Homo sapiens: one gene and its partners. The protein of the gene in region 6 purifies or fractionates together with the protein of the main gene of each other region. This does not show direct contact. Each region holds a gene or a part of one and is shown on either strand. Other genes may lie near its edges.

Region 1 (4,511 bases), about 31 Mb from region 6:
TTTTTTATGTTTTTAAAAAAAAACAAAGATGGGTCTTCCCAAAAGACCTTTTTGGATTCTATTTTAGAGTTAATATTCTTTTGTTGTTGTTGCTGTTGTTGTTGCTATTTTTAGATAAGGACTAGTTTTTGTAAGATGTTCCTCTTAGCAAATATGATACTGTATCATCTTTGATGATACTTAGTATATGCCAGTGACTATTCACACTCAGTTTTTGACACAATTTATATTCTGGGGAATAATTGGATTGGTTCACACATAATTAGGCTGAAGCTTAATTACAACAATGATCTCTGTAAGTGTGGCCTTTGTAATTTTATCTTTAATCAGGAATAAACCTGACCCTGGTGGAAAAAATGTACAAATAAAAAGTTCCATAATTTTGCATCACAAGTAACTCGTTACTGTTTTAGAAAATTTTCTTCAAGTAATTTTCCTTAATTTTATAATGTAGATTTTAAATTACAATAAAATTGAACTATTGAAGGTGTTTTGAAGTTTTTAAATTAATGCTTAACGTTAATACTTTTTGCTTTAAATTGGAGACTTAAATCCATTTTTAAAGGAAAATGTTAAGCAACCCATAAGTTAAATTGTCAAATATTATCAAAGTTAAAATATTACCAAATAGTTTTTGCAACCAAGTGAGACTATAGAAATTTTCTGACTCCCAGATGTAGATATCAGCTCTTTATAAAGCTAGTTGAGTGGGATTTCTCCTCTGCAAAGCTATTAAGGTTTTGTTAAACCCTAGTAGCTTTATGGGTGCTGTCTAAATGTCTAAGCAGTTTTTCCAAAAATGATTTACACACTTAATATCAGTAAACATATACTTAATGCCAAAATAATTTTGGAAGAGCTGCTCTATTATGGACTTGGGTTTACTTTTATCAGGCTTTTAAACAAATTCAAAGTATGAATGTTTGTTGTGTTCCTCTTTTCTATTTTCAGGTCACGCACGTTGAACCATGGGAGAAAGGAAGCAGGAAAACAGCGGGCCAGACAGGGATGTGCGGAGGGGTAAGTAGAAGTACGTGCATTTTTCAGTTTTTCTGTGTCTAATAACTAAGTTTATATTTAGAGAACTAGAGGCCTGTCAATTATACACTTGAGTGACAATTTTTTTAATCCAAATTCAAGTGTTCAGTGAAATAGGGTTAGAAAAGTGTTACTTTTTAATGCTCCTTAGTTCTGGATTATGGATTGTTATTGATACCTAACAGGATTAATCAATTGGTGTTAAGAGTCCGTTAATTATTTTACTACTTTTTCTTAACTCGTTTCCCCTAAAGGTTCGAGGTGTTGGAACAGGAGGAATTGTTTCTACAGCATTTTGCCTGTTATACAAATTATTTACCCTGAAGTTAACTCGAAAGCAAGTGATGGGTCTTATAACACACACAGACTCTCCATATATTAGAGCGCTTGGATTTATGTATATAAGGTGAGCGTACATTTATGTACATTTCCAGTAAATATCTCATTTTAATTCACATGTGTTTAATAATAGTCTTTTGTAATTCTAGATATACACAGCCCCCTACAGATCTGTGGGACTGGTTTGAATCCTTCCTTGATGATGAAGAGGTATGTCAACAAGGGTAATAATTTGTTTTCTTCTGATTACTCTCATATTTTTATTATCTTTTATTTATTGGTGGTTTAATGTCTTCAAGAACTTCCTGTAGTTAAATTTATTTCAGTGAGATACTTTTGGAATTAATGTCCTTTTACTGAGACCTGATGGCTTTTATGTATTTTAGGGTAAATTTCTGAAGTTTTATTTTCTTGTTTTAAAATTGTTTAAATGTGTTTGGTAACTATTGGAAAATTTTCTCTTCTTAATTATGTTCTGTGTATTGTATTGATCCTGAATTGTATAGTTAATAGTGACTTTTCAAGATGGGGCATGCTCAAGATCGAACAGATAATAAAAGATATGCACATAGAATACTAATTGTAGCTTTTTTTTCTTCTGGAACATTTCAGTTCTTCACCCTCTAGCTTCTTCCAAATATCAGTATTCCCACTTGCATAGAAGTGCAGAATTGAAGAGTTGGGTGTTACATAAATAGGCTAAGTGTTTGGATGACTTGTTCAAGGTGACAAAATTTTAATTCCAGTTTTCTGACTCCTAGTACACCACACACACCTTTAAAAAAGAAATTTTTTAAATTGTAATTCGAGTCTCCCTAATTTGAAATCTGAAATACTAAGTTAGATTTAAATCGTGTATGCATTGGCTGGGCGTGGTGGCTCACATTGTAATCCCAACACTTCGAGAGTTCAAGACCAGCCTGAGCAATATAGTGAGACCTCATCTCTACAAAAAAAAGTTTAAAAATTAGCTGAGCATAGAGGTATGCATCTTAGTCCCACCTACTTGGGAGGCTGGGGTGGGAGGATCACTTGAGCCCAGGAGACAGAATTTGCTGTGAGCCAAGATCATTGCCACTGCATTCCAGCCTGGGTAACACAGTAAGACCCTTTCTCAAAACAAAACAAAATATCATATATGCATTAATTTACTTGCATGGTGAAGTCCAACATGTCAAAAATGAAATGATGAGCTGTATTGTCCCTATGTCTACCCAGTCTACTACTTTGTGTTTTAAGGTTCATAAGACTTTTTGAGTGCTATGTGTCAGTAGTCTATTTACAGAGTTCATCCAAAGAATTTATTGAATTAAAGGATGGTTCTAATGGAAATCTATTGTGTTTTGTTATTACATGCACACCTAAAAAAAAAAAAAATCTCATTTAGACATGGAGAATTTTTATTTTTCTCTTTTTTTTTTTTTTTTTTTTTGCCTGTTAACTGAGTTACTTCACTCAGAAGAAGCAAAACGTGTTTTAAATCACAATCTTTAAGGTCTTTTTATCTTTAGATCAGTTTTTCAGACTGAAGTGCTTCTCCCTTCTGTCTTTAAAAAAGCATGTTCCTCTTCATAATTGGTGTTGTATTGGTTTTGTTTCTGGATGCCTCTATTTTATGTTTTTTATTGTGTTTACAAATCTGAGGTCCTCTATTTAAGCTAACTTATTGTTTTCTTCCTTAGATATCTGCAGCGATTATATTTGGAAATACTGTATATCTGAACACTTAAATGTGTGTGAGTGCAAGCAGTTTTACCTTTAGCTCTTGTTTTCCTGTTTAGATAACAAATCTCACTTTCCTTGTGTGCTTGCACTATAGGTTTGGGACTGACAATAGCTGACTAACATGTCCTGAGCTGTGAGAGGGCATAGCAAGAAGGCCTTCATGCGGTAATGACCCTTTTCAGAGACAATGGTCATCATGGATTATGCGTTTCCAATTATTTGTTCATTTATTTATTTTCTACATAACTAAATTAGAAACCTCACTGCTTCATGGCAGTTGGTTTGCTATTGCTTCCAGTTTTATTAGGGCTTCATTTTATATTAGAGCTGTTAAAAGATAACCTTTAGACAGGAATTATCTAAAGTAGATCATATGTAGCTAGGTTATGGTGCAAGGTATATGATGTGTGCAAATATGTCCACAGAAATAAATACATAGTAGGTATGTGGAATGTAAATTTAAGTCAATCGTTCCGCATAGTTTAGAAATGTAAGGGGCTTTTTCATATTGTTAACTGAGTGAGATCAGTTCCCTTTATGCCTGTGAGGCTGCAGGGTTTGTTCTCACTTGCATGCACACACTAAGCCCAAATATTTCTGTTCATTCATTGTCAGATCAGGATATGAAAATAAAATTTTTCTGTTAGTTTTTTTTGTATTGAGATTCCAAAGATGGTAATATTTTTATAATATTCATGTATATATGGAAATACTTTTTTTGACGGCTAGGGTATCTTTTGTGTTTCTGTAGGACCTAGATGTGAAGGCTGGTGGAGGCTGTGTAATGACCATTGGAGAAATGCTACGATCTTTTCTCACAAAACTGGAGTGGTTTTCTACCTTGTTTCCAAGAATTCCAGTTCCAGTTCAAAAGAATATTGATCAACAGATTAAAACCCGACCTAGAAAAATCAAGAAAGATGGGAAGGAAGGTGCTGAGGAAATAGACAGACATGTTGAACGCAGACGTTCAAGGTAATGTCACTCTTGAATTATGCTTATTTTTCATATATGCTTTATACAAAATTAATGGTTCTGAGAAATAGCAAGTTCTTAGGAATTTGTTTTTACTGTTCATTTTATTAGTTTGTCACTTTTACCCCCCAAAGATTATTTTCTTCCTTTCAGGGCTTTTTCTATAAAATTATGCATCTGTAAATGAGAACAATAAAATTTTTTGCTTTAATGATTCTTGACATGGCCTTAAGCTTGAGGACATGAATAAATAATGCTGTTGAAAGTTTTACTGTGAAAAGAATTGCATATGTTTTATTCATTGAAATTTTCTTTCTCCCTCCGCCTTCCTTAGGTCTCCAAGGAGATCTCTGAGTCCACGGAGGTCCCCAAGAAGGTCAAGAAGTAGAAGTCATCATCGGGAGGGCCATGGGTCTTCTAGTTTTGACAGAGAA
Region 2 (4,511 bases), on a different chromosome or scaffold from region 6:
AGTGTGTATATGTGTATATACACACATTTAAAAAACAAAAATATACATCTATAAGAATATATTTTATATATATGGAGGAGTGTGTATATATAGTGTGTATGTGTATATGTATATACACACGTATATACACATGCATATAGTCTGTATACGTATATATAGGTTAAAAAACAAAAATATACATAAAATATTTTTATATATGTATAAAATATATAGAGAGAGTGAGAGAAAAGGAGGGGAGGGGAGGGGAGGGGAGGGGAGGGGAGGGGAGGGGACGGGAGAGGAGAGGAGAGGAGAGGAGAGGAGAGGAGAGGAGAGGAGAGGAGACGAGAGGAGACGAGAGGAGAGGAGAGGAGAGGAGAGGAGAGGAGAGGAGAGGAGAGGAGAGGAGAGGAGAGGAGAGGAGAGGAGTCTGAAACTAAAATCCCAGATCATCTTATCATGGGAGGCAGAGAGAGTTGAAGAGAGAAAGATTGGGAAGGATCCTGTTTCTAGTCTTCTCTAAGAGGACAGACACCTATTAACTCCAGAGGTCAGTCCAAAACCAATTTAAGGATGATCATAAGAATAGAAGATGTACAACTTTGAAATCACTAAGGAGAGATAAAGATGAGATGGGAAAACAAGGAGAGAAACAGAAAACTTATTAACTGATAAATCTAATAAATAGCGTAAAAGGAAAAGAAGAATCAGAAAGCATGATGGAGGGGCAAAATACGTAGGAAGAATAAGCCCAAACATATAAATAAATACAACAAATATGAATGTATTAATAACAGATTGAGTAAAACCACAAAATCTAGCTATGTGTTTCTAAGAGCCATATCAAAAATTAAATGTCATAGAAAGTATAAAAATTAAAAAAAACAGGCATATACAGTAACATTGCTAGCAAATAAATTTCAAAGCAAAAAACATTAAATGTGGTAGCAATATTCCATTCTGAATAAACCTATAGTTCATGAGATGTAACAGTCACAAATCTTCAAGTACCTAATTATCAGCTGGAAAAGTACAAGGCTTTAAAATAAGCTTCATCAATAAGACACTGATTAGACTAAATTACAGCCCATCCATACAATTAAATTTTATGCAGACAATATAAAGAATAAAAAATTAGAAATCTATATGTAATAATTTGGAAAGAGATCCAGAAGACTGAAACAAATAAAGCAAGTTTCAAATAGTTGCAGAGCCTGATCCCTTGTGTATACATTTTTAAAATAATAAACATATACATACAAGGTGACATAACTGTAAATTTACTTTCTGGAAGCAACATATAAGAAACTTTTTCAAGTGAGACTTGAGAGGCATCTTTTACTTTTTGTTCTTTTTTTATACTGTGAGTTTTTTGGTGTTTTTTTGGTTTGCTTGTTTTTGAGACAGATAGGATCTTGTTCTGTCGCCCAGGCTGGAGTGCAGCGGCATGATCTCGGCTCACTGCAACCTCCACCTCCTGGGTTCAGGCAATTCTCCTGTCTCAGCCTCCTGGGTAGCTGGGATTACAGGTGAGCACCACCATGCTCAGCTAATTTTTGTATTTTTAGTAGAGACGGGGTTTCACCATGTTAGCCAGGCTGGTCACAAACTCCTGGCCTCAGGTGAACGACGGCTCCTGGCCTATGCTGTGAGTTTTCTAACCAAGTGTTCAAAGAACATATAAACTAACAAAAACAGAATCATTTTATCTTCAATTTTTTTCAATTGTGACTTCTAGGTTTCATGATCTATTTAGAAAGAATTTCCATCACTCTAATGCTCTGCAAGATTTCCCCATGTTTTCTTCTGGTGCTTTTACAGTTTTTTACTTTTTTTGACATTTAAGTCTATGATAAATCTGTAATTTATCTGGGTATAGGAGTGAGAAGTGGGACTACAGCTTCCTTCACACATATTGAATTACTGGCAGTTGTCATAATATCATTTGTTAGATAATTAATCAATTTTACCCTACCATTTGAAATGTCACCTTTACCACAAACTAAATTCTAACCATGTTTTGGTGGATTTCAGACCTTATTCTGTGCTATTCCTACATCAAAAGCAAACTGTTTAATTTCCACAGCTTTATAATGTATTCTAGTGAGGCTTAATCAGTCTTTTCCAGAAGAAAGGTTATCTTCCATATGACCTCTATTATAATTTTGTCAAAATTATAAAGTCCATATGAATTAACCACGTAGTCCCAAAGTAGCAGATACGTAAATGTTCTTCTTTCATGATTATATCATGCTAAGAAGTTTATCTAACAAGCTTTTGTGCTTTCAGGATTAGAAAATAAAGAAATTTAGCTCTTGATCCACACAACTGATAATCAATGCTTTGGTCCATTTTCAGTGAGGAGGGAGTGGGGAAACATATCTATGCTTAGGGAACAGCTATGTCAGTATAAAGTGGTCATTTTGAAGTCACCATTGTCACCTCATCTTGTACCAGTCCTTCCCATTTGCTATGCCCTAATTGTGTGGGCCTTTGCCTCATTTCCTGAATACACCAAAGTTGGTCCTGCCTTAGGACTGTGCACACTTAGTGTTCACTTTGCCTGGAATGCTCTCTTTCTGATCCTTGGATGGCATTTCATTCAAAACTCTGCTCAAATAAGTTTTCAAAAAATAACGAATCTAAAGTAGTTGTATTACTCTCCTAAGACAGTGTCACATATCCCTGCTTTAATTTTTATAGCACTTCTTGCCATCTGAAAGTACTAATTTTACTAGTTTGCTTATTGTCTGTGTCACATGTTAAAATATAACTCCATGAGAATCCGGAATTTGCTGACTTGCTCACTGTTGTATTCCCAATGCCTACCAAAGGACAGTCACTCAACACTTAACTGAATGAAGGCATGAACAATGGACACTTAGAAAATTTTACACTAATCAGTGGTAGGATAGGTAACAGTAACAAGAGAGGAGGTTGACAATAGAATCAAAGTGTATACTTATACTCACCTGCAAAACGTTCGGATATAATCCTGGTTGATTCTGATGAAGCCAGCACACTGTTGGAAGGATTTTGGGCCCAGCCCTTTCACTTTCTTCAGCTGTTCTCGGTTGATAAAGGGTCCATTTTTCTCTCGCCATTCAATAATATTTTTGGCCCTGTTGGCATTGAGTCCTGCAATATGCCTAGAAAAAAAAAATAAGCAAACTGAAAAAAAGATCTCATCTGAAAAGACAATGATATAAAACATTTGGATCATAAAAACGACTGCAATGACATATCCTCATACGGCTAAGTTAAGTTAATCCAAAAGGGAGTTTAAAAAAAAAAACAAAAAAAAAACGGAGAAAAAAAGAGTTGTGCAAGAGGAAAGAAGGACAACAGAATAAAAAAATAATGACAAAACCAACAGCTGTCATAAAGATGCTGGTAAGAAGGCTAACACTGATGCAAGAAAAAAATGTTCCTTAGTTTTTCTATACTATTCACATTCCTTATGTTTCTGGATAAAGTAATAATTTTGCCTATTTTTTTCAGCATACATACAAAGTGAGTTAGAAGAAGTTATAATAGCTACAACTGTGTTGTACTACCTTTTTTGTGTGTTAGCCTGTTCTCAGTAATATAGAGCTGAACTACAGAAAGGCCCTTATCTATAATTGTCATGGTTAGTATAAATTATATACAAAGACTATATCATTAGGTAGTTTGCTTGGTGTCAAAAGATTATTTCAGAGAATCTCAACTCTATTATAAAATTCCATATATGAAATTATGAAATGTTTGTAGATGTGTTAGAAAATCAACAACTTAAAATGTAAGGGACAGTTTCTGCTATACCTGTTTCAGTGAAAACGGTCCAGATCAGGGAATTTCATGCTGCATTAGCAGACTTGTGTAATAAATGCAAAACTGTGAACAAAAAAGCAGCTCTTCTAAAACCATGGGGGAAAAGAAGATTATATAACATGCGATTATAGTATGATAAAAATTTTGACAGGTTTCTTGTGGAATCAGGGTAAAAATATGGTAACCATACCTTGAACCCTCAGAATTTATCTTTTGGTTACTGCCAGGTTTGACAGATGCATGCAAGAGGCTTAACTAGTGAAAAATCTCTACTCTCACGTGGTGGGAAACAGCTCTTTTCCATGTTAACCTTATTTAAATTCTATTAGCAACACTAATACACTCAATGGTTACCATATGCTCTTCACTTTAGACCTGCAATATTAAAAATGATAATGTGAATTGTTATAATTCTTTTCTTAAATGATGTCTTCCCCTCTGATTACTTAAAGCAATGTATAAACCCATAGACGTTCTCTACTTGACAACTTTATACACGTGTTCCCTTCTTCTAGCCGAGTTTGGACTGGACAGCCAGTTAAACTCAAGATTCTGTGATCTTCAGCCACATATTTGTCTCACCTTAACAAAACTTCTGAACAGATGTTAATATCCACTCCCACAAAGCTGACACATTCTTCTACAACACTGTCCAGTGTTGCCTTGAGTAAAGTCTGGGATACGTCATGCTGAAAAGACAAAGATCAAATATTAACAGT
Region 3 (3,500 bases), on a different chromosome or scaffold from region 6:
TAATTTTTTTGTATTTTTAGTAGAGACAGGGTTTCTCCATGTTGGTCAGGCTGGTCTCAAACTCCTGACCTCAGGTGATCTGCCCAACTTGGCCTCCCAAAGTGCTGGGATTATAGGCTTGAGCCACCATGCTTGGCCCCATCTCTTATTTTTTTAATGGGGAAAGGAGGTGTGGGTGTGCAAGGCCCTCGTGAATGTCTCTGGCCAATGCCATCTCGTGTTCTCGCAAACTCCTCTTCCTAGGACTGGGCCCTCGTACATGTTATGTGTGGGACAGTGTAGCTGCGAGGGGCACAGACCAAGAGCCAGATGGCCACTCTGTGTCCTGACTCTGCCCTCAACAACTTGTGGGACTCGAAGCAAATTACTCAGCCGCTCAGTGCCCCAGCTTTCTCATCTGTAAAGCAGGAATAATAATAGTACTGGCCACACAGGGTGGTTGTGAAGATGAAATAAAGCAATATCTAGGCAGTGCCTGAAGAGTGGTGAGTGCTAAGTTCTGTCATTACTATGGATATGAATGGGAGAGGGAAGATAAATACAAGTGAGTACACGAGGAAAGAAAGCACACATCTAGTAACAGAACACACATTACCATTTAAAAAATTGCGCTGGTTTTCTAAAATTTGGTTGATTTCATGGATCCAAGTTTGCCGGACACTTGGACTAGATGAATGCAAAATGAAGGTCTCTACCACGTCACCCGTCCTCGATGTCAGAGCAAATTTACAGGGATCATTTTCCACATTTTCCTCCAGGCAAAGGCAACTCACCTTAAAAAAAAAAAAACATTATTCATAATAGCTAACAGGTGGAAAGGAAGCAAACCATGTGTCCACTGACCGATGAATGGACAAAGAAAATGTGGGCTATGTGGACAGTTTTTCAGCCTTAATGAGGAAAGAAATTCCGACACACAATACGACATGGATGAACCTTGAAGACGTTATGTTAAGTGAAATATGCCAGTCTCAAAATACAACTATTGTTATGATTCCACTTACAGGAAGTCCTTAGAGTAGTCAAATGTGGGGATAGGAAGTAGAGTGGAGGTTGCCAGGGGCTTGGGGGTGGGGAAGTGGGGAGTTACTGTTTAATGGGTACAGGGCTTTAGCTCTGCAAGATGAAGAGTTGTGAAGACAGATGATGGTGATGGCTGCAAAACATGAATGTTCTTAATCCCATGGAGCTAGGTAATTAAAGATGGAACATTTATGTTATGTGTATTTTACCACAACAAAAAATTAAAGCACATTGATCCCCACTGGCCAAGTGCAAAGTGAAGTTCATCCTAACTCAATCCTGAAACAAGCACTTTTCAGTTGAACTGCCATTTTTACTGCCTCAGAAAACATCTGAAGCTTTTTAATGCCTCTTAACTCAGGTACATGGGGAATACAAGGCTGTTAAACTAATAGTTTGAACTAACAGCCTGAACAATTAACTAGAAATATGCGTCTGGGATTACCTGTTTCCCAAACCCCTCTATGATGCCTCAGTATTTATCCTTACTTACTTCCCAGGGAGTAAATGACACCATTAAACAAATCTCAAATATCACTAAAACCTATGTTATAAAATTGTATGTGATATCATGATTAAAATATGTCAAATAATTTTATAAAAATATGTAAAAAATATATACGAAATTCCTACAGTGCTGGAGTGATTTTCTGCCAAAAGACTTGTGAGAAGAATGGGTAGGCAGTTCTCAGGGGATGGGTGCAGTGCAGGGGATGGATGAGTGCAGTGCCCGGGATGGATGAGTGCAGTTCTCAGGGGATAGGTGCAGTGCAGGGGATGGGTGGTTCTCAGGGGATGGGTGCAGTGCAGGGGATGGGTGTAGTTCAGATGATGGCTGCAGTCCAAGGGATGGGTGCGGCTCAGCGTATGGGTGCAGTTCAGCGTATGGGTGCACAGTTCAGGGCATGGGTGCACAGTTCAGATGATGGCTGCCGTCCAGGGGATGGGCGCACAGTTCAGGGGATGGGAGGCTCAAGTGTAGTGGTGAGCCCAGAGGGTCTGTGCCTGACATGGCCTCAGGGTGAGGGGCCTCAAAAGGCGGAGTCTGGAGGGGCAGGCGGGTGGTGGGAGGTGCGAGGGCCCGCAGCCCAGCCTCATGCAGAGGCGGCCTCCTTCTCCAGCTGTTTGGCTCCAGAGCCCTCCTAGGTGCTGGTGGGCAGAGGCCCCCAGCCTGGCACCTGTGCCCACGGACAGACCCACCCCAGGTTTAGGCAAATGGAGGCTGCTGGGGACAGCCAACAAAAGCCTGAACGGAGAGTCGGATGGGGGAGGACGCAATGTTCTGCCTGTGTGCTGTGAGGCCCGCAGGTGTGCACGGTCTGAGAGTTCCCTGTCCCTGATGGCGTAGGGCAGGAGGCCCTACCAAAGGGAAGTACATCTCCCTTCTGACCTCAGGGTCTGCACAGCTGCAGAGCCAGGAGGACCCTGGCGGGGGCATGTATCTCCCAGGAGTCATCTGCTGGGACCTCAGGCCTGCCCTCTGCTCTTCTCTACCTCACCCTTGGTTTGTCCCTTTTACAGACTTGAGGGCCATTGGCAATTATTTTCTTTGTCCCTCTGTCTTCCTTTCCTATTAGAGGATAAGCTACATCAGGGCAGGGAGGGCATCCAGCTGGGCCATTCCTGGAGCCCTCACGCCTGTTGCTGAGTGCTCAGTACCTCCTTGGTGAGTGGAGGAAGAGAAGAAGACACCGAGTGAACTTTTTCTCTGATCATAGAGCAATCCCCCAAATCCGTGCTATCAAATTTAAACCAGTTTTCCTCGGTCCTAGAGAAGGGGGTGCATAAACACTACCCATGACCAGTTCTCATCATGGTAAGAATGAATGGCTGTGGTTACACAGAGGTGTGTACAAGACATCAGCCACTCAAGAACACAGACAGTAAAAAGAGAAATGGGGTGAATTCAAGGCTCTGAAATATACTAGAAAATTCTCAAATACTTAAACGAAGCATCAGGGTATGTCATCATTAAAAGGAAACAGTGTATCGGTGTGACGGGTACATGCGCTGGCACAGAGAAATCACACAGAGACACACGTTACCTTGATACTGTTCTTAAACAGGAATCCCGGCATGGAGAAGCCCTTCTTTTTATCAAGTGGTTCGCTGAATATGACGATCTGCTCAAAGAGGAAGATGCGCCTCTCTCTGCAGCGAGGCAGAAGTCCTGCATCTTGGTCTGTGACCAAGAATGTGTCCTGCAAGAGCAGTTTACCCTGGGCAACGATTTTCCCCTAAAACAAGAAATAAAGGGGGAAAAGGAAGGGGAGAAGAAAACATTGCCTTCTAAGTTATCTGAAGCTGTTTTCTTTAGATTTCCTCCTATGGAATAATGTATTTTTCTTTTATTAATTTATGGAGTTTAATTTTTTTTTTCTTTTACTGTTCTTGGCTCTAAACAGAATAATTATCTAAATAAAATTCTTGCCAACATTTGTATAGACCTCTGGCGCCTCAATTACAGTCACAGATTA
Region 4 (4,511 bases), on a different chromosome or scaffold from region 6:
GGCGCCATAGGGCACCAGCACGCTGGAGTTCAGCTTGGATTTGCCATTCATCACGGGCTGGGAGCAGGATTCACTGCGGGGGATCGGTTTTGTTACTTTACTAGAAACTGACATCGTAGATGCGTTCGAGGTAGACTGTACTGCAGAATTGGTAATGGTAGAAGAGGGAACGGGCTTGGTAGGGTTCTCCAAAGAATTACTATGAAGGTTAGGTTGAGACTGACACTGGCGAACAGGCAACTTGTTGTGAATACTGATTGTAATTTTTTGTTTCTTAGGATGTTCTGGGATCACTGAGGACCTATTAACTGACCAGTTTTGGACAGAAGCTGAAGCATTAACAGGACTAGCCCTGTTGACACTGGAATTCCCGTTAGGACTCGACATGGAACTGCTTGGCGTGTCTTTCAATGGTCCAGTCCCATTTAAGTGAGGTGGATTCTGGAAGTAAGCAGAGCGCACCTGGTCAGAGCTCCAGAAACATGGTCACACAAACAGAACCCATTTTGGCTGATGGGTCCTTCCCATTTTGCTTTTTTTTTTTTTCAGGACTAACAAGTTTCATACACCTGGAAATGTTCTCTGTTTTTCTCAATCCCTCCTACCCGCGCATACTTTCCACAGGCCCTAGTTTTCTGGCAATAAATCAACAAACAGGACATACATGTTTCACAGAAAACAATCCTCCGACCAAACTCGTTCTGTCCCAGATCTGATCGAAATCAGCAGGACCTGTGGCATGGAGTCACACACTTGCTACCTGGTTGGGTTTCCTGGGAGCTCGCTGATGCAGAGTGCCAGGAAGGAGGAATCACCCTCGCCTCGGAGCAAAGGAGACGGTCACGTGGGCGGAGAGTAGGGGCTGCTTCAGCCGCCACTCACTCAGCCATGACCCCACCACTGCCCCACAACGTCTCCACATTCTCCTCACGCAGTGAGACTCGCTGCAGGTTCCCCCATGGCTGCTGCACCCCCGTGGAGGCGCAGGCGTGAAAGTCAGTTAACAGATCACGTGTGGCCTTCCCAGCGTCTCCTCACATACCTGAATTAGCTGCCATCCTAACACTGGAAAGCTTCATGGTAAAAACAAAAACAGGCTTTGGAAAAGCAATGCCAACCACCCCTTCCTACAGGGCACATGCCCTCCTGTTTGCCAGAGTCCTGATGTCACTCTGGAGCAGAGCCCAAAAGGGGAGCCCGCTGGGCATTTGATGTGTGACTCTGTTATACCTCAAATATACTGCCTGATGTCCATAAAATAAAGCATGCAGCTAGACCGTGTGTGTGATCATCCAAAACAAACTCAAGTCGAAAAGCTGTGAAGATGCCACAGCTCAGATGAGGCCCCCACTCTAGAATCCTGTGTTCCTTGTGACACTAGCTCACTACTGTTCGCCCCGACAGGACCAACAGGGAGTAAAATCAAACCCAGGGGGAGAGCAGACAGAAACACCACACCCCTGAAACGACTAAATGGACCTAACAAACGTGTTCTTGTAAACAGATCGCTTTCCTGCAATCCGACAGGAATTAAAGAATCTCCAAGTGTTTAACCCTTTGAGAAGAATGGAAGTCCAGAGGGGACCTAAAATTTAAAGGTGCTGACACCCAGGCTTTCCTCTTTCCTCCCCATTGGTGAGGTTTGCTGTATATTTTGGGGTTTTTGTTTTTTTGGGGGGTTATTTTGGAGACGGGGTCTCACTCTGTTGCCCAGGCTGGAGTGCAGTGGTGCAATCTCAGCTCACTGCAACCTCTGCCTCCTGGGCTCAAGTGATCCTCCTGCCTCAGCCTCCTGAGCAGCTGGGACCACAGCACACACCACCATACCCGGCTGATACTTGTATTTTTTGTGGAGACGGGGTTTCACCCTGGTACCCAGGGTGGTCTCAAACAACTGAGCTCAAATGATCCACCTGTCTCGGCCTCCCAAAGTGCTGGGATTACAAGCTTGAGCCACTGCGCTCGGCCGTTTTCTGTATATTTGAAATACTGTGTAAGAGGGTTTGATTAAACTGTGAGAAGAAATTCAGATGTATTTGAGGACACAGCAACCACTACAATTCAACTTGAGAGTTTGAAGTTACATTTTAAAAATTAACATAAAAATGTTCTTCTCCCTAAGGACTGTTACCTTTATCATGTGAGAGGGAAGCTGTGGTCCGATAAAGCCTGGCGCAGCCTGTTTGTTGGTGACAACCCGCTGACTGATGACGGGGCGGGGAGAGGACTGGCCGGGGCTATGGGTGGGATGAGTAAGTTCACCTCCATTTTTCACATCATGGGACCTGGAAACAAGGAGAGCGATACTTAGGGTGACACAGGACACCTCCTTAGGAGAGATTCATTTACAAAGTCAACAGCATTTAACCCCTCAGGCGGAAACCTGATGAAAAAAATAGCATGTTTATGCTACACAGTATGGAGCTATACACATCCCCTCCTTCAGGCTAATGTCAGGCACTCAGATCAGGAGACAACAAGGATAACTGGGTAAATGACGTTCTTTAAACTGTGTTTTCTGAAGATGCTGTTTCATCTGAAAGGTATTTCTTTTCTGTTTATTTATATTTTCCTTTTTTTGAGACAGGGTCTTGCTGCGTCGCCCAGGCTGGACTGCAGAGGAACAGCCATTGCTCACTGTGGCCTTGCCCTCCTGCCTCAGCCTCCTGAGTAGCTGGGACCACAGACATGCACCACCACGCCTGGCTCATTTTTTTATTTTCTGTAGAAATGGGGTCTCGCTTTGTTGCCCAGGCTTATATTTTTCTAATTATAAATATATGCCACTGTGGAAAATCTAGTGTCCAAAAAAGTTAGAAACAAAATCCTACCCCTCAACTTGGCCTGAGGCCTCCTCTGATCATCATCTGTGCTTCAGCCCAACTGCCGAAATCCAATGCCAGTGTTTAATATTTCAATGTGCAGACATGAGCATTCTGCCAGTTGGACATTTGAGAATATTCTTGATTTTCAGCTATCAAACATTTTTTCCAAAAATGGAGCGAGTGAGTGAGTGAAAAGCGTATGCAGCCACAACAGGACAGAGCTGGGTGCGGGTGCTGGCCTTGGCCTGGAAGGCAACTGACCTGTGCTCCAGGTTGGGAGGTGCTGGCTGTGACCACGCCAGGTGCTCAGAGGTCCCTTCCTGAGGTCTCCACTCATTGTCCTGTGGCTCCTGGCCCACTCCATTACTGCCCGCAGCAGAAGCCCACCCTTGTCAGCCACCACCTCTCCCTGCAGCTGCACCTTCAGTGCTCATGGCCACAGAGTGCGATGCGGAGCAAACTCATCATCCCGCTCAGACACTACCTTTCTTACTCTCCAGGCACATGGCAGAGTTGATGGTTTTTGGTTTTTTTTTGAGACAGTCTTGCTCTGTCACTCAGGCTGGAATGCAGTGGCTCAATCATGGCTTACTGCAGCCTCGGCCTCCCCAGGCTCAGGTAATCCTCCCACCTCAACTTTCGGAGCAGATAAGACCACAGGCCCACAACACCACACCTGGCTAATTTTTTCGTATTTTGTAGACATGTGGTCTCACTATGTTGCCCAGGCTGGTCGGTCTCGAACTCCTGGGCTCAAGTGATCCTTCCATCTTGGCCGCCCAAAGTGCTAGGATTATAGGCGTGAGGCACCATGCCCAGGCTAGAGTTGATCTTTAAGCTGCTGGGTTTTTTTTTTTTTTTAAAACACTGAATATTGAATTCAAACATGTTGATAAGACAAGAAGAAATGACATACCAGAAAATCTGGCAATTTGTTTTCATGACAATACCTGATATAAAAGAGCACATAGGCTTGTTGGCTGAGTACCGATCTAATATCACTGGTAGATACAATGGAGTCATTCATTTGATACCAGAGGCCATTGCTAGCCTATAAATGAGAGCCAATAAAAGAGAGAGATTAGATTTAATTAAACATGGAACATAGTCAAGAGAAATATTTCTTTCTTTTTTTTTGAGATGGAGTCTCACTCTGTCACCCAGGCTGGAGTGCAGTGGCGTGATCTTGCAATCTCCACCTCCTGGGTTCAAGCGATTCTCCTGCCTCAGCCTCCGGAGCTGCTGGGATTACTGGCAGGTGCCACCACACGCAGATAATTTTTGTATTTTTAATAGAGGCGGGGTTTCACCCTGTTGGCCAGGTTGGTCTTGAACTCCTGACCTCAAGTGATCCCCCAGCCTCAGTCTCCCAAAGTGTAGGGATTACAGGAGTAAGCCACTGCGCCCGGCCAAGAGAAATATTTTTACCTCGGGTATTCACATTTTAACTGTAAAAGTTCCACCTCTCCCTACCCCAAGAATGCTACTGCTGTCTTATAGCATGTATGTAACAATAGTTAATAGCAAATCTGCACAGCTTACTTTTATGTAGCAGAAGTAATGGCCAGCATGGCAATTAAAACCAGTGTGGACCAGCACTGCATACAAGACGTAGACAATTGGCTCTCCGTTGGGTTGAGACATATATGGCCGAATATCAAGATACTCAGGGTATTTCACATCCTA
Region 5 (4,511 bases), on a different chromosome or scaffold from region 6:
CAGGTGGTTGCTGGGGGCAGCTTGGGAAAACTTCCACCCTGAACCACTCACACAGCAGCTCCTACTGCTCTCATTACTAGTGCCAGAAGTACTGTTGTCACAACAAGCACACTGTCCTCACAGCTCCCGTCAGGGTGTCCTCTGTGCAGTGGTGCCTGCTGCCAGGCGGAGGCAGACATTCAGATGGTTGGCAGTATGCGTTTCCAGAAAAGTCCACCCAATGCCTTTGCACCATCCCTGGCAAATGCCTATCTGTGCCAGTCCCATCTGTTTTCACTCCACATTCATGCAAGCTGTCCCACCCCCCCCCCTTTCCAGTTTGCTCTGAAAACGAGTCCGAAGCCGAAGCTGACCAGCAGATGGACAACTTGTACCTGAAAGCCTTGGAGGGTTTCATTGCCGTGGTGACCCAAGATGGCGACATGATCTTTCTGTCAGAAAACATCAGCAAGTTCATGGGACTTACACAGGTGACACCCTCCTCTATCTCTTTCAAAAGAAGAAATGTTTCCATTTGGGGGTAGAAATGAGTGGAAGGTGCTAGCCACAATCCCACTTGACCTCTCCCTGCAAATGCCCACGGTGACCCTCGCTGACCTCAGGCCACACGCCTCAGGCCACGCTCCCACCCCCAAGCATTGGGTTTGGCTTTGCTCATGTCCATCCTGGTAGACAGCTCTCTACTGACTCATTAACAGACCAAGTCTCTGTCATCATCAGTAGTCCCCGATTACATCTTTCTGTCTGTGGACCTGACACTGGACTGGGATTATGAGAAAACCCAATTCAGTCTCCTCCCTGCCTCCAAATCTGGAAGGTGGCTCAGCTTACTCTTGGAGTCTTTTACTTCACTGTTAGGAATAATGATGCCTAACCTTGTTTTTGAAACAGGTGGAGCTAACAGGACATAGTATCTTTGACTTCACTCATCCCTGCGACCATGAGGAGATTCGTGAGAACCTGAGTCTCAAAAATGGTATCCTTAATTGTGTTTACTTCCTTCTTGCCCCCACTGGGTGGGAATCTGCCTCCCCTTTGTCTACGGGTATAAGGGAGATAGCTCATGGCCCTTGTGATGCAGGAAAAATGGATGTCCTTAAAAAATTTAAGTATGTAGCCTGTGAGATGAGATTGGGGCATTGAGAGGATCCAGTACTCAGAAATATCTCCTGCTGGCCCTGCATGGTGCCTGGTGTCCCACTACTAGGGGACACCTTTGGGTTAGGACACTGTCTCTAGGAGGTTTCATCACCCAAGAGTCAAGCATCTCTGCCAAATGACACCACCCAAACCAATGAGGAACTAGTCTGTGCCAAAGTGCTCATAGTAACTACTGTAGTTATCTATTGCTGTCTAACAAACCACCTATAACATAGGGCTTTGATGATTATCTCCCAGGGTTCTGTGGGTTCAGTGGGTGGGTCTTGTACTCCATGTGATGTCAGCTGGGCTGCAGTCATCTGGGGGCCAGACTAGGCTGGGGTGATCAGGATAGCTCACACACGTCTGGGACCTTGTGGCAGGTGGCTGGAACCCTGGACTCAGTTGGCATGCTGGGACAACAGGACTGTTCTCTCACTCTATGGAGACTCAGAGACTCTCCCTCTCCATATGGTGTCTCTAGGGTAGCCAGACATCTTACGTGGCAGTTTAGGGCTCCCAGAAGCACTAAAGTGGAAGCTGCCAGGCCTTCTGAAGGCTTTGTCCCCAGATTGGCAGAGCATCACTTCTGCCCCATCTTGTTGGTTAGAGCATGTTACAGGCCAGCCCTGGCTCATTGTGGGAGGAAACTACACGAAGCCATGAGTGTCAAAAGGCATGGCTTGTTGGAGCTACTTTTGGAGAAGAGCTACCACAGGAAATGGTACCCTGATGAGACGCAGGTCAAGTAGGTTTTGATGGAGAAGAGGTTTAAAAAGATGTAGCATTCAGGACCTTACCCATGGGGATACCCAGCAGGTGCCAGTAGATGAGAGGACCCACACAGGCAGAAAGCACGTTGCAATGGTTGCAATGGCAGTGGAGCTTCCTGTCTTGTAACTGTGGCCATTCAACAAAGGCATGAATAGGGACATTGTTAAGAGGACTGAAGCTTTGGTCAGAATTGGGGCTTAATGACTGTCAAGGTCCCTTCCAAACCTGAGATTCTGTCACTGGTCTGGGGAGATTCTGTGCATGTCTAGATGTCCTCTTTAACAACCTCACCTGTCACTGCCATGGGGCTTGTGCTTGTCCAGCCTGAATAACAGAGGCAGTGAGGCTAAGCCTACAAGGTTTGGCTCTTATTACCACACACGCTGCAAAAACAGACACTTCATTGGCTCACCTCCACCCTATTACAGACTGAGTCTGCAGTCCACATTTGGGCCTGCAAAGTACAGAATCACAACCACCTCCTCTTCTACCACTGCCACAGCTCCCTCACCCAGCTCCTCTGCTCTCTCTTCTGCAGGCCTTAGACCACCTGGGTCCTAGGGTACACTGGCAGAGAGCACCCTGTAGGCTGCTCAGTGTCTTGTCTGGTTCTGTGGGGAAAGGGCTACCAGACTTTCTAAAGCTCTCTAAAAAGAGGATTCATGTTCTGCATGGGTAGGTGCTTGAAGCCTGAGAAAGCCTGAGAAAACCAAAGACTGATTTCTTCTGTACTCCAGAAACCCTTTGGCCTTTGGGTTCTTAGTGTCAGTTCAGCCACTGACCATAGTCTGAGTTTGAGTCTGTGACCAGAAGCAAGTACCCTACTTCTCTGTTCCTCAGAGTCTTTCTTTTCAAATTGATGGTATTGGACTAGGCAAAGGCGACAACCTTTCAGTTCTCAAGTGCCATGATTCACAGCCAAGTGACCTCTAATTATCTGAGTAGAACTTTAGATCTCTTGATCTGCATATTGAGGACTTGGGATCAGTCAAACTCAATGCAACAGCAAATCTTCACTGAAGGTGCCAGCCTATGGGTGGACTCGTGATCTAGACCTAAAGGGTTAGTGTGAGTTCCTAGAGGAAAAGAAAGCCATGAGGCAGATTGTGGAAGGCTTTGAAGGCCAGGTGGAGGGCCTTGAACTTTATTCCATAGACAATGGGGAGCTATTGAAGGTTTCTGTGCAGGGGTGGAGTGATCTGTGTGGAGCAGTGTTTAGAAAGAATGAACAAGGCCAGGCACGGTGGCTCACGCCTGTAATCCCAGGACTTTCGGAGGCCAAGGTGGGTGGATCACGAGATCAAGAGATCGAGACCATCCTGGCCAACATGGTGAAACCCCATCTCTACCAAAAATACAAAAATTAGCTGGGCGTGGTGGCGCGTGCCTGTAGTCCCAGCTACTTGGGAGGCTGAGGCAGGAGAATCACTTGAACCCAGGAGGCAGAGGTTGCAGTGAGCCAAGATCACGCCACTGCACTCCAGCCTGGCGACAGAGCAAGATTCTGTCTCAAAAAAAAAAAAAAAAAAAAAAAAGATCAAATGTCAGCATGGGGAGAATCCAGAGGTTAGCAAGTTAAGAGGCCTCAATAATACCCCAGCAACAGCCACAAATGAATCCCTCCAGCCCCCTTATACCCAACAACTGGTCTGGTCCTGGTGGTGGGGCCAGATCCCAAGATACAGGTATATCTCATTGTATGCTAACCCCACCTCTGAAAATTAAAATGGCAAGAATCATAATTTGGTATGGGAGAAATGGTTTTATAATCGTGATGAAGGAATGTTCTCTCTTTTTTAAAAAAATTCACTATTCAGTCTGTTACTGAGTGGGGTCCCCTAAGGATGTTGAAGTTTTGTTCAAGGGTGCCACAGTTCCTTTGACACATAACTCTTCAGGAATATGTCAGTCAAGATCCTCTGGAAGTTTAAGTGCAGGGGCTGGTGACTGTTCCTGGAGGAAGGAGTGTGACTATTCGAAACAAGGCTCTAGATTGTTCTATGATGCTGGGTAGGGGGCAGGATTATATCTTTGAAAGTAGGTACCAGAGATGGTGGTGTAGGCAGGATTTAGACACAGACAAGTGGGATTCAGCTGGCACTCTTCATTACTTTGTTTTACAAAAAGTGGAAAATGGTTCTGAATCGGGAGGCTGTTTGGCAACTATAAGGAAGTAAGCTATATTGCTGGTCTTGGTGATTTAATTTTTGCTGAGAGAGAGGATATGATCCAGGTTGAGTTAATCCATAAAGTGGACTTGCTCACCAAGTCCACTGTAAGGAGATTCGTACCAGAGTTCTCTCTAGAGCCTTGATACATATGTCACTTCAGGGACAAAGCTAATGGCATGGTATCCTGAACACAGCTATTGCAGTTTGCAAATGGGGTACAGGAGGGGTTAAATTCCTCCTGAGAGACAGGTTATAAAGGAAAGACGGGAGTGTCGGAGAGACATTTCTAACCTGTGAGGAAGGCTTACACCCTTGGAGTAACTGTGGCCTCACTCAGACTGTCCCTTGGAATTTCTGCGAGAAGACCTGGGCCTGCCCCAGGAAAGGGTGGCTGAGTTAGTGGCTGATAGGCAGTCGTTGTGTCGC
Region 6 (4,511 bases):
GCCTCCCAGAGTGCTGGGATTACAGGTGTGAGCCACCATACCCAGCAAGACTGGTTACTCTTTTTATTCTGAAACCTTGAAACCTAGTGTTCTGTTGATTAATTGAGTAGGAATTGCTACTTCTTCAAGGGTCTAGAATCCAAATACCTGACCCCCTTTTTTGGTCTCAGTTTATATGGTTGATTCTTTGAATCCCAATGTCGAATATCACATCCATCATTATTAAATTTCGTCCTGTTAATTTTAGCTAATTTTTTTTATTTTTTATTTTTTGAGATGGAGTTTTGCTCTTGTCACCCAGACTGGAGTGCAGTGGCATGATCTTGGCTCACTTCGACCTCCTCTTCGCGGGTTCCAGCAATTCCCATGCCTCAGCCTCCCAGCTAGCTAGGACTACAGACGCACACCACCACGCCCTGCTAATTTTTTGTGTTTTTAGTAGAGACAGGGTTTCACCATGTTGGCTAGGCTGGTAATGAACTCCTGACCTCAGGTGATCCACCGGCCTCGGCCTCGCAAAGTGCTGGGATTACAGGTGTGAGCCACCACGCCCAGCCAATTTTAGCTTATTTTAAAAAATAGTTTAATTTTTCTTTAAAAACTTATTTTTATAATTTTAAGTTTATATTTTACTAGCCTGCCTTCTGTAGCTTTATCCAGGTTATTGTTAAAAATATTGAGCAGTTCTGACACCTGCTAGTGAAGACCTCCTGCATTCATATTAATCTTATATGTAACTATTAAATAGCTACCAATCCTTCTGACATAATTTTTTTTCTCTGTAATGTGAATCTGACTTTTTATGAAGAGCTTTACTTTTTGGAATAGACTAGGCAATGGAATTCAGGCAGTTTCTCAATATTAAAAGCTCCTTAGGTTACCAACTATGTCCTGATGTGTAATTATTATATTAAGGCCAGGCGCAGTGGCTCACTCCTGTAATCCCAGCACTTTGGGAGGCCGAGGTGGGTGGATCACTTGAGGCCAGAAGTTTGAGACCAGTCTGGGTAACACGGTGAAACTCCGTCTCTACTAAAAATACAAAAATTTAGCTGGATGTGGTGACACATGCTTGTAATCCCAGCTACTCAAGTGACTGAGGCATGAGAATTGCTTGAACCTGGGAGGGAGAAGTTGCAAGTGAGCCGAGATTGCGCCACTGCACTCCAGCCTGGGCGACAGAGTGAAATTCTGTCTCAAAAAAAAAAAAAATTGTACTAATAACATGGTTCCCTATACTTTTCCTAATATTAAAATTTGAATAGCTGATTGATTATCTTCTATTAGGATAAGGGGTCAGAATTTCAACCTGGAATTTGGAGATTGTACTACGAAAATATTCTCCCCTTAAAAGTAATATCTTCGGGCGCGGCGCGGTGGCTCAAGCCTGTAATCCCAGCACTTTGGGAGGCCGAGGTGGGCGGATCACGAGGTCAAGAGATCGAGACCATCCTGGCTAACACAGTGAAACCCCATCTCTACTGGAAATACAAAAAATTAGCTGGGTGTGATGGCGGGTGCCTGTAGTCCCAGCTACTCAGGAGGCTGAGGCAGGAGAATGGCGTGAACCCGGGAGGTGGAGCTTGCAGTGAGCTGAGATCGCGCCACTGCACTCAAGCCTGGGCGACAGAGCAAGACTCCGTCTCAAAAAAAAAAAGGTAATATCTTCAGAAGCAGTTTTGTTTTGTTTTTGAGACAAGGCCTAGCTCTGTCACTCAGGCGGGAGTGCAGTGGTGCAATCACAGCTCACTGCATGCAACTTCTGCCTCCTGGGCTCAGGTGATCCTCCCACCTCAGCCTCCTGAATAGCTGGGACTGCAGGGGCATGCCACCAGGCCTGGGTAATTTTTGTATTTTTTTGGGGTAGAGACAGGGTATTGCCGTGTTGCCCAGGCTGGTCTTGAACTCCTGGGTTCAAGCAGTCCTCCCGCCTCAGTCTCCTAAAGTGCTGGGATTACAGGTGCGAGCCACCATGCCCAGCCCAGAAGCAGTTTTGCATTTACTTTAATGCAGATGAGCAATTTAGCCACCGGAGCTGTACATCATAGAGCGTGAGTGCAGTCGTTTTCATCTGGAAAAATTTTCAGTTGGTGTTGCTGCCATCATTATTGGTGAGAAAACTTCCAGTAGTCCAGTTAGTGTGGCAGATAGAGGAAAAAGCTGCCAGATACAAGATTACAAAGATAAGGACAAACAGATAAAATCTTGTGCACTCTTTGTGATTTCCAACTTGTAAGTCACAAGCTTCTACAGGAGTCTTAGTTTTGCAAAATCTACTTCTGTGGATTGGACAATAGCATTTCCATATACAACCATTTTCTGTTTTTTTCTAATGTCTAATACTCATCTCCTGTGATTAAATTATCAGACAAGAATGGAAGCATACATGCCTTCTTTCTTTTGGTGTACAATTTGAGAAGAAATTGAAGTAGCTAAGAACTCCCATTGTCTTACCCTACTATATCTGAATGCCCTACCCTCAATAAACATTTGTCAAATAAAGGAATAAAAGAATGATTTTATTACCTTAGTAAATAAACTGAGTAAAACTAGGCAAAGAAAATACTAAGGGTTTTCTATTTTGATAGCATTGTATTATACGGGATACTAAATATCCTTGGGACAAATTGTTAGCCTTTGTTTACATGCACTAATTCTTTTCCTTTTTCTTTCTTTCTTTCTTTCTTTCTTTCTTTCTTTCTTTCTTTCTTTCTTTCTTTCTTTCTTTTTTAAGTCAGGGTCTTGCTGTGTTGCACAGGCTGGAGTGCAGTGGTGCAATCTTGGCTCACTGCAACCTTTGCCTCCTGGGCTCAAGGGATTCTCCTGCCTCAGTGGAACTACAGGTGTGCACCACCACGCTGGGCTGATTTTTCTATTTTCTGTAGAGAGATGGGGTTTCACCATGTTGCCCAGGCTGGTCTTGAACTCGTCAGCTCAAATGATCTTCCCGCCTTGGCCTCCCAAAGTGCTGGGATTACAGACCTGAGCTGTCATGCGTGGCTGCCCAGCCAATTCTTTCTTTCTTTCTTTTTTTGGAGATGGAGCCTTGCTCTGTTGCCCAGGCTGGTGTGCAGTGGCGTGATCACGGCTCACTGCAACCTCTGCCTCCTGGGTTCAAGTGATTCTCCTGCTTCAGCCTCCCGAGTAGCTGGGATTACAGGCACCCACCACTATGCACGGCTAATTTTTGTATTTTTAGTAAAGAAGGGGTTTTGCCATGTTGGCCAGGCTGGTCTCAGACTCCTGAACTCAGGTGATCCACCTACTTCGGCCTCCCAAAATTCTGGAATTACAGTCATCGCACCTGGCCCTGCCCAGCCAATTCTTATTAAATTGTTTAGATAATGCAAAATTAATAGCAGAGCAGAGAGAATGTATTTATGTTTTATTCTTTTTTTCATCTCAGCTATCAGCAGAGAGAATTTATTTTAATCTTATTTTTTGCTTGAGATTTTAGAAAAAAATATTTATCTTGGAAGTTTCTTTTCAATCCTCTGATCCCATTTCTTTCCTCTGAGGCAAAATAGTATTGCCTAAAAAGCAGTGAGAAGAACATCTACATTTCATTGGCAAATGCAGAATTTTTACTTTAGAGGAAAATACATAGCTTAAATACTTTCAGTAAACAAAGCGCTCAGTACTCATCTTTAGGGATTAAGAAAATAAAACCAGGCTGGGTGCAGTGATTCATGCCTGTAATTCCGGCACTTTGGGAGGCTGAGGAGAGTGGATCACCTGAGGTCAGGAGTTTGAGATCAGCCTGGCCAACATGGTGAAATCCCATCTCTACTAATAATACAAAAATTAGCCAGTCGTGGTGGCACACGCCTGTAGTCCCAGCTATTTGGGAGGCTGAGACAAGAGAATCGTACGAACCTGGGAGGTGGAGGTTGCAGTGAGCCAAGATTGTACCACTGCACTCCAGCCTGGGCAGCAGAGCGAGACTCCGTCTCCAAAAAAAAAAACAAACAAAACAAAAAACATAAAAAAATACAACCAAAGGCAAGTAGGATATGGATATTAATGGAATTGAAAACAGATCAGAACAAAAATAGTGGAGAAGATAAATAAATCCCAAATCTGGTTCTTTGCAAATACCAATGATCTAGATAAACATCTTGTAGAAGAAAAAGATATGGAATAAAAATGTACAAGATTGGGAATGAGTAAACACCATAGACCCCAAATACAGGAGACATTAATGGAATCTTTTGCAGATTTTCTTGAGAATATACATGTAATGCTATACTGTCAAAGTTATTTCAAGAGAAAATGGATGTTGTTATAGCAAAATGTCAATGAGTAAAATTGACCCAAGAAGTAAAAATGTTAATTGCCCAATCCCCATGAAAGGTTTGAAAAAATGATGGAAGATTGGTTCTTGACAGAGGCAGCATAGCATATAATTTCACAGCTGAGTTTCATTTATGAAGAACAACACATCATTATAATAAAAAGGAACTCTCTTTTCCATGATGAAGAATGCAAAGCTAGTCAATGCATTCTGTGAA
Region 7 (4,511 bases), on a different chromosome or scaffold from region 6:
TGGGGACTCTGGGCGATGACTGCCTTTGGGTTCCAGGTGCGGTTCCTGGAGCAGCAGAATCAGGTGCTAGAGACCAAGTGGAACCTCCTACAGCAGCTGGACTTGAACAACTGCAGGAAGAACCTGGAGCCCATTTATGAGGGCTACATCAGCAACCTGCAGAAGCAGCTGGAGATGCTGTCTGGGGACGGGGTGAGGCTGGATTCGGAGCTGAGGAACATGCAGGATTTGGTGGAGGACTACAAGAAGAGGTGAGTGAGTGGCAGGGAATATGGCCCTGGAGGATCTGATTTCAAATGAGGTTTTCGTTTGGAGATGGCATTTTTGCTTCTGAGATCCTTGCTGATACCGGGGGAGGGAGGAACATCCAGACAGAATGGAACTAGGAAAAGAATAGATCTACCTACACCGGTTCTCCAAACTGTCGAGGAAATGTGTGCTCAATTTCTAGCACTGAAAATGAAGGAATGGGGGAAAGAGAGTTGTATCAAAACCAGATGGACAACCCAAATGCCTTTGTAGTTCCTCCTGAGTGAAGTTTTCCATGGCAGTTCCCAGAATGTAAGACACCCCACCAATTCCAGGGCAAATTTTAAATCTAAAAAAAAGAATTTAAAAAACTTATTCCATGTTGAATCATGGCTGTGCTGCTGAATCCTGGCTTTAAAGAGAATAATTGAGAATGTTTGAGGATGATTGAGAATGAGATGGAACCAGAGGTTGTGTCCTCCTCCAAGTTGAGCTGAATATGAGACAGTAATAAATCAAGGCTCAGTGTGACCTGATATTTTGGAAGTTTGCTTCCAGATGCCAGGATTTCTAGGGACAGGTGGCTTCTTCCACAATTCAAGTGGCTGGAGGTCGTCAGAGCTGAGTTCTTTCTCTTGCTCCATATTCAATCTACCTGCCCATCCCTATTCTGAAATTCCTTCAAAGCAGAACCCTGGCCCAAGCCCTGCATGGAGAACCTAAGGAAGGAGGAGACACGGTCCCTGACCTCAGAGAGCACACAGATTGTGAGGACAGGCTTAAAGAACAGTTTCAGATAGCCACCAACAAGAAGAAACAAATATGGTGTGAACTGAGATAGGTGGAATTAAGATGGGAACTGGAGCCCAACTAGAGATGCAAGCAGGGTCTGGAAAGAACAGGGGGCTGCCAGACACAGTCCTGAAGTCCCACATGGAGGCGTCCAGGGGCAGTGCTATCTCTGGGCCTTTCAGACTGGAGTGGCTTTGTGCTCCTGAATCACCATGAACTAGTTGAGCAACCACAGATGAGTCTCTGTGTCCTCTGTGAACTTTAGTTTTAGTATTTATGAAAACTAAATACTGATACTTGCCTTGCTACCTAAAAGAGCTATTGAGAGGATAATGCCAGCCAGACAGTAGTGTATTAGCAGCTTTGAAAAGAATCCAAGTGCTACACAAATGTAAGGCATTGTTTTCCCTATGTCAGAAGGCTTGGATTTGAATCCTAGCTTCACTAGTAACTAGCATTTTGACCTTGGCCAAGTATTTTCATGTCTTTTGCCTCATCTATAAAATTGGAATAATAATAGAATCTACTTCATAGGGCTGTCGTGGGGATTAAATGAAATAATTTGTGCTAAGAATTTAGCACAGTGTTTAGCATGTAGTAAGGGGTACAATAAATATTAGCTGCATTTACTAGGAGTATTTTAAAACTGATTTTATCACCCATCTCTTCCACCTGTGGGTCCTCATGCCAGGTTTTTGCATCTCTCTTATGATATATCATAAGAAATGCTAATCATATGTCATTGTTGAATTAGAATTTTCAGTGCATTTGCCTTCCTGTTAAACTGTGAGTTTCTAGAAGATGCACAGTGTATATGTCTTAAGCATCATTGTATACGCTGAAGCTTTTCTCATAGGCTCTCTAAAATGATTTTAAAAAACTCTTCACAATTAAAACATTTCACAGTTAAAAAATTGAAACTACAACCTTTTAATCATAAGTGTAAGTAGTTTCAAAGGGTGTAATTTCAAACGTATTATGTGTGTTCCCATTTAAAATTGTAATAGCCACATCACTCATTGAGATGTACCCAATTGCATCCAGGTGCTGCAGCAGGTTAGCGCCCATCACCCTTCATCTAAAAAGCCAATGAATGGGCTCTGCTTTAAAAATCATAACTTTTACCTTGATCCTTTTCCTGTTTGGACTCCAATTTTCATCCCACTTTCCCCACATAATTTTGTTATAATATATTTTTATGCCTCTAAGTCTTTTATTGATCACCCTATCACAAAATATGCATGTATCTCGAAACCTTAGAAAGTTTACTTCTTGTGGCCTGTAATCCCAGCACTTCGGGAGGCTGAGGCACGTGGATCATTTGAGCTCAAGAGTTCGAGGCCAGCTGGCCAACATGGCGAAACCCTGTCTCTACAAAAAATATAAAAAATTAGCCGGGCATGGTGGCGTGCGTCTGTGTTCCCAGCTACTCAGAGGCTGAGGCATTAGAATGTCTTGAACCTGGGAGGCAGAGGTTGCAGTGAGCTGAGATCAAGCCACCGCACTCCAGTCTGGGTGACAGAGCAAGATTCTGTCTAAAAAAAAAAAAAGAAAGAAAAAAAGAAAGTTTACCTTTTGTGATCATAAGTTTTTAAATGTCAAAAGACTTATTTTGGGTTGAGTTATCCAAACAACGAAATGTATTGCTAATTTTGTTAAATAAGTATTAAACATAAAAAATGAAAAAAAATTGAAAATACTTTTCCTAATGAGTTGAATGGGGCAGATTTTTTTCTAAGTGGCTTAGTTATCCATGTATGAATATTGATTCTTATTGAGCTGAGATAGGATTCTAGTCCTGTGTGTTTTCCATTCTTAGGTGAGTGCTGGGAAACTTTAATTATAGAAGTAGATTTTAATGGAAGGAGTTTTGCAAGCCCAGTGTTATTTAGTTCTCGGAATGCCTTTCCAGTTTTTCTGCTTTTTCTTTCTTCCATAGTGCTTACTGTTTCTAACATGCTGCATGATTGACACAACTTATTTGTTGTGTTTGTTATTTGTCTCTCTCTGCTTCTTAAGGGCAGGGATATTTGTTTTGTTTTGTGCCTACAAAGTACCCCACACTCAACACATATTTTCTTAGGTGAATGATTACATGTCAAAATCACATAATGACTCACCATTAAAGATCATGTTTAACCATCTGTCAGCTGACAATTCAAATCCTTCTTTTTTTGAAAGCAAAAATTAAAAACCATCTGACTTGCAAAAAGAACTTGTTTCCTAGTCAGTAAAGTCATTATCTTCCAAATTTCTGGAAAATTTTTCAATAAGGCTTTACCAAGACTGATCAAATGGCCATGCTTATACAACTTATTCTGTCCTTTAGGAGCACCACGTTTAATCCAATGGATCAGAAAGAACTGGAAACATAAAACATTGTTAGTACTCAATACACCTATGCCAATTCTTTATCCTTAAAAAATAATGTGATTCTGCCTCATGTTTTTGTACACGAATACACACACTGGCACATTTTTGAAACTCTGGAGCTGCAGATTTACCTCATTCAATTTATATAGAAAATATCTGCCCTCTAGCTTCATTGGAAAAACCAATTTTCATATTCAAATCAGAGACATGAGTTGCTTTTCATCAGAAAAATCCTGACTTCATTTCTAAATTCAAGTAAAAGTAAGAATTTGTACTTTAGGGACTGTTATAAAATCCACTCAGAATAAACTAAGAAATATGTCTTGTATAATAGGTTATTGAAAGCATTCAAGATTAAAATGATTTAGATTTAATATAACTAATATAACTATTTATGTTATAAAACAAGAGAAATCAATATGTACTTTTTAATGATTTAACTTTTAATTATTCATTGTAATATATTTTTAAATAATAAGTTATTTTTAAGTTAATAATGCTATAAAACTTATTTTTCTTTTTAATGTGTGTATTGAACTCTGGTGTTTGGCCTCTAGAAGTAAATAATGTAAAATTATTTACAGCTAATGTCATTGATTTTGATAGCCCACTTGGTCAAAAGTTTTCTATGTATTTTAGGAAATAGATATAAACTACTAAAAATTAATTGGTCCGGCAACTACCATATGTCTTATTTTTATTAAGAGGGGGTAGACATTATTAATCTTTTTGTAAGATAATATAAAATAAAGATTGACTGTAATAGAAATAGCTGTTTCATGACATAATTTGATTAAAAGGTTTCAGTTATCTTTTGAATAAGACACAGAATCTGGGATAAATCATATAAACTGCTTTCTGTGTGTTTTATATAGCATAACTAGAAAGATCTGCAGCCTCAGAAAACATCCCAGTCACATTTGAAATAGCTCCCTTCACTACCCTGCACTGCTCAGCCATTCAACAGTGCTTTTTTTTTAAATTATTATACTTTAAGTTCTAGGGTACATTTGCACAACGTGCAGGTTTGCTACATATGTATACATGTGCTGTGTTGGTTTGCTGCACCCATTAACTCATCATTTATACTGGGTGTT

The links.
Region 1: the proteins of USP33 (region 6) and PRPF38B purify together in Homo sapiens (affinity purification with mass spectrometry; one large-scale study listed by BioGRID and IntAct). This does not show direct contact.
Region 2: the proteins of USP33 (region 6) and SRBD1 purify together in Homo sapiens (co-immunoprecipitation; one large-scale study listed by IntAct). This does not show direct contact.
Region 3: the proteins of USP33 (region 6) and TRIO purify together in Homo sapiens (co-immunoprecipitation; one large-scale study listed by IntAct). This does not show direct contact.
Region 4: the proteins of USP33 (region 6) and USP42 purify together in Homo sapiens (co-immunoprecipitation; one large-scale study listed by IntAct). This does not show direct contact.
Region 5: the proteins of USP33 (region 6) and EPAS1 purify together in Homo sapiens (affinity purification with western blotting; one study listed by BioGRID). This does not show direct contact.
Region 7: the proteins of USP33 (region 6) and KRT72 purify together in Homo sapiens (affinity purification with mass spectrometry, with the first as the bait; one large-scale study listed by BioGRID). This does not show direct contact.

Annotation. Positions count from the first base shown.
Region 1 is NC_000001.11:108,694,751-108,699,261, forward strand, and holds part of PRPF38B (pre-mRNA-splicing factor 38B), read left to right. Parts: intron 1-951; coding exon 952-1,020; exon of another isoform or gene 1,021-1,030; intron 1,031-1,292; coding exon 1,293-1,444; intron 1,445-1,526; coding exon 1,527-1,587; coding exon of another isoform or gene 1,588-1,601; intron 1,602-2,810; exon of another isoform or gene 2,811-3,059; coding exon of another isoform or gene 3,060-3,099; exon of another isoform or gene 3,100-3,107; coding exon of another isoform or gene 3,108-3,113; exon of another isoform or gene 3,114-3,267; intron 3,268-3,853; coding exon 3,854-4,077; intron 4,078-4,411; coding exon 4,412-4,511. UniProt on the Homo sapiens protein: May be required for pre-mRNA splicing.
Region 2 is NC_000002.12:45,415,414-45,419,924, forward strand, and holds part of SRBD1 (S1 RNA-binding domain-containing protein 1), read right to left. Parts: intron 4,482-4,511; coding exon 4,375-4,481; intron 3,129-4,374; coding exon 2,952-3,128; intron 1-2,951.
Region 3 is NC_000005.10:14,482,342-14,485,841, reverse strand, and holds part of TRIO (triple functional domain protein), read right to left. Parts: intron 3,261-3,500; coding exon 3,069-3,260; intron 774-3,068; coding exon 596-773; intron 1-595. UniProt on the Homo sapiens protein: Guanine nucleotide exchange factor (GEF) for RHOA and RAC1 GTPases. Involved in coordinating actin remodeling, which is necessary for cell migration and growth. Plays a key role in the regulation of neurite outgrowth and lamellipodia formation.
Region 4 is NC_000007.14:6,145,513-6,150,023, reverse strand, and holds part of USP42 (ubiquitin carboxyl-terminal hydrolase 42), read right to left. Parts: intron 4,509-4,511; coding exon 4,368-4,508; intron 3,877-4,367; coding exon 3,776-3,876; intron 2,286-3,775; coding exon 2,132-2,285; intron 442-2,131; coding exon 1-441. UniProt on the Homo sapiens protein: Deubiquitinating enzyme which may play an important role during spermatogenesis.
Region 5 is NC_000002.12:46,355,833-46,360,343, forward strand, and holds part of EPAS1 (endothelial PAS domain-containing protein 1), read left to right. Parts: intron 1-318; coding exon 319-470; intron 471-891; coding exon 892-976; intron 977-4,511.
Region 6 is NC_000001.11:77,748,842-77,753,352, reverse strand, and holds part of USP33 (ubiquitin carboxyl-terminal hydrolase 33), read left to right. Parts: intron 1-4,511. UniProt on the Homo sapiens protein: Deubiquitinating enzyme involved in various processes such as centrosome duplication, cellular migration and beta-2 adrenergic receptor/ADRB2 recycling.
Region 7 is NC_000012.12:52,594,638-52,599,148, reverse strand, and holds part of KRT72 (keratin, type II cytoskeletal 72), read left to right. Parts: intron 1-36; coding exon 37-251; intron 252-4,511. UniProt on the Homo sapiens protein: Has a role in hair formation. Specific component of keratin intermediate filaments in the inner root sheath (IRS) of the hair follicle.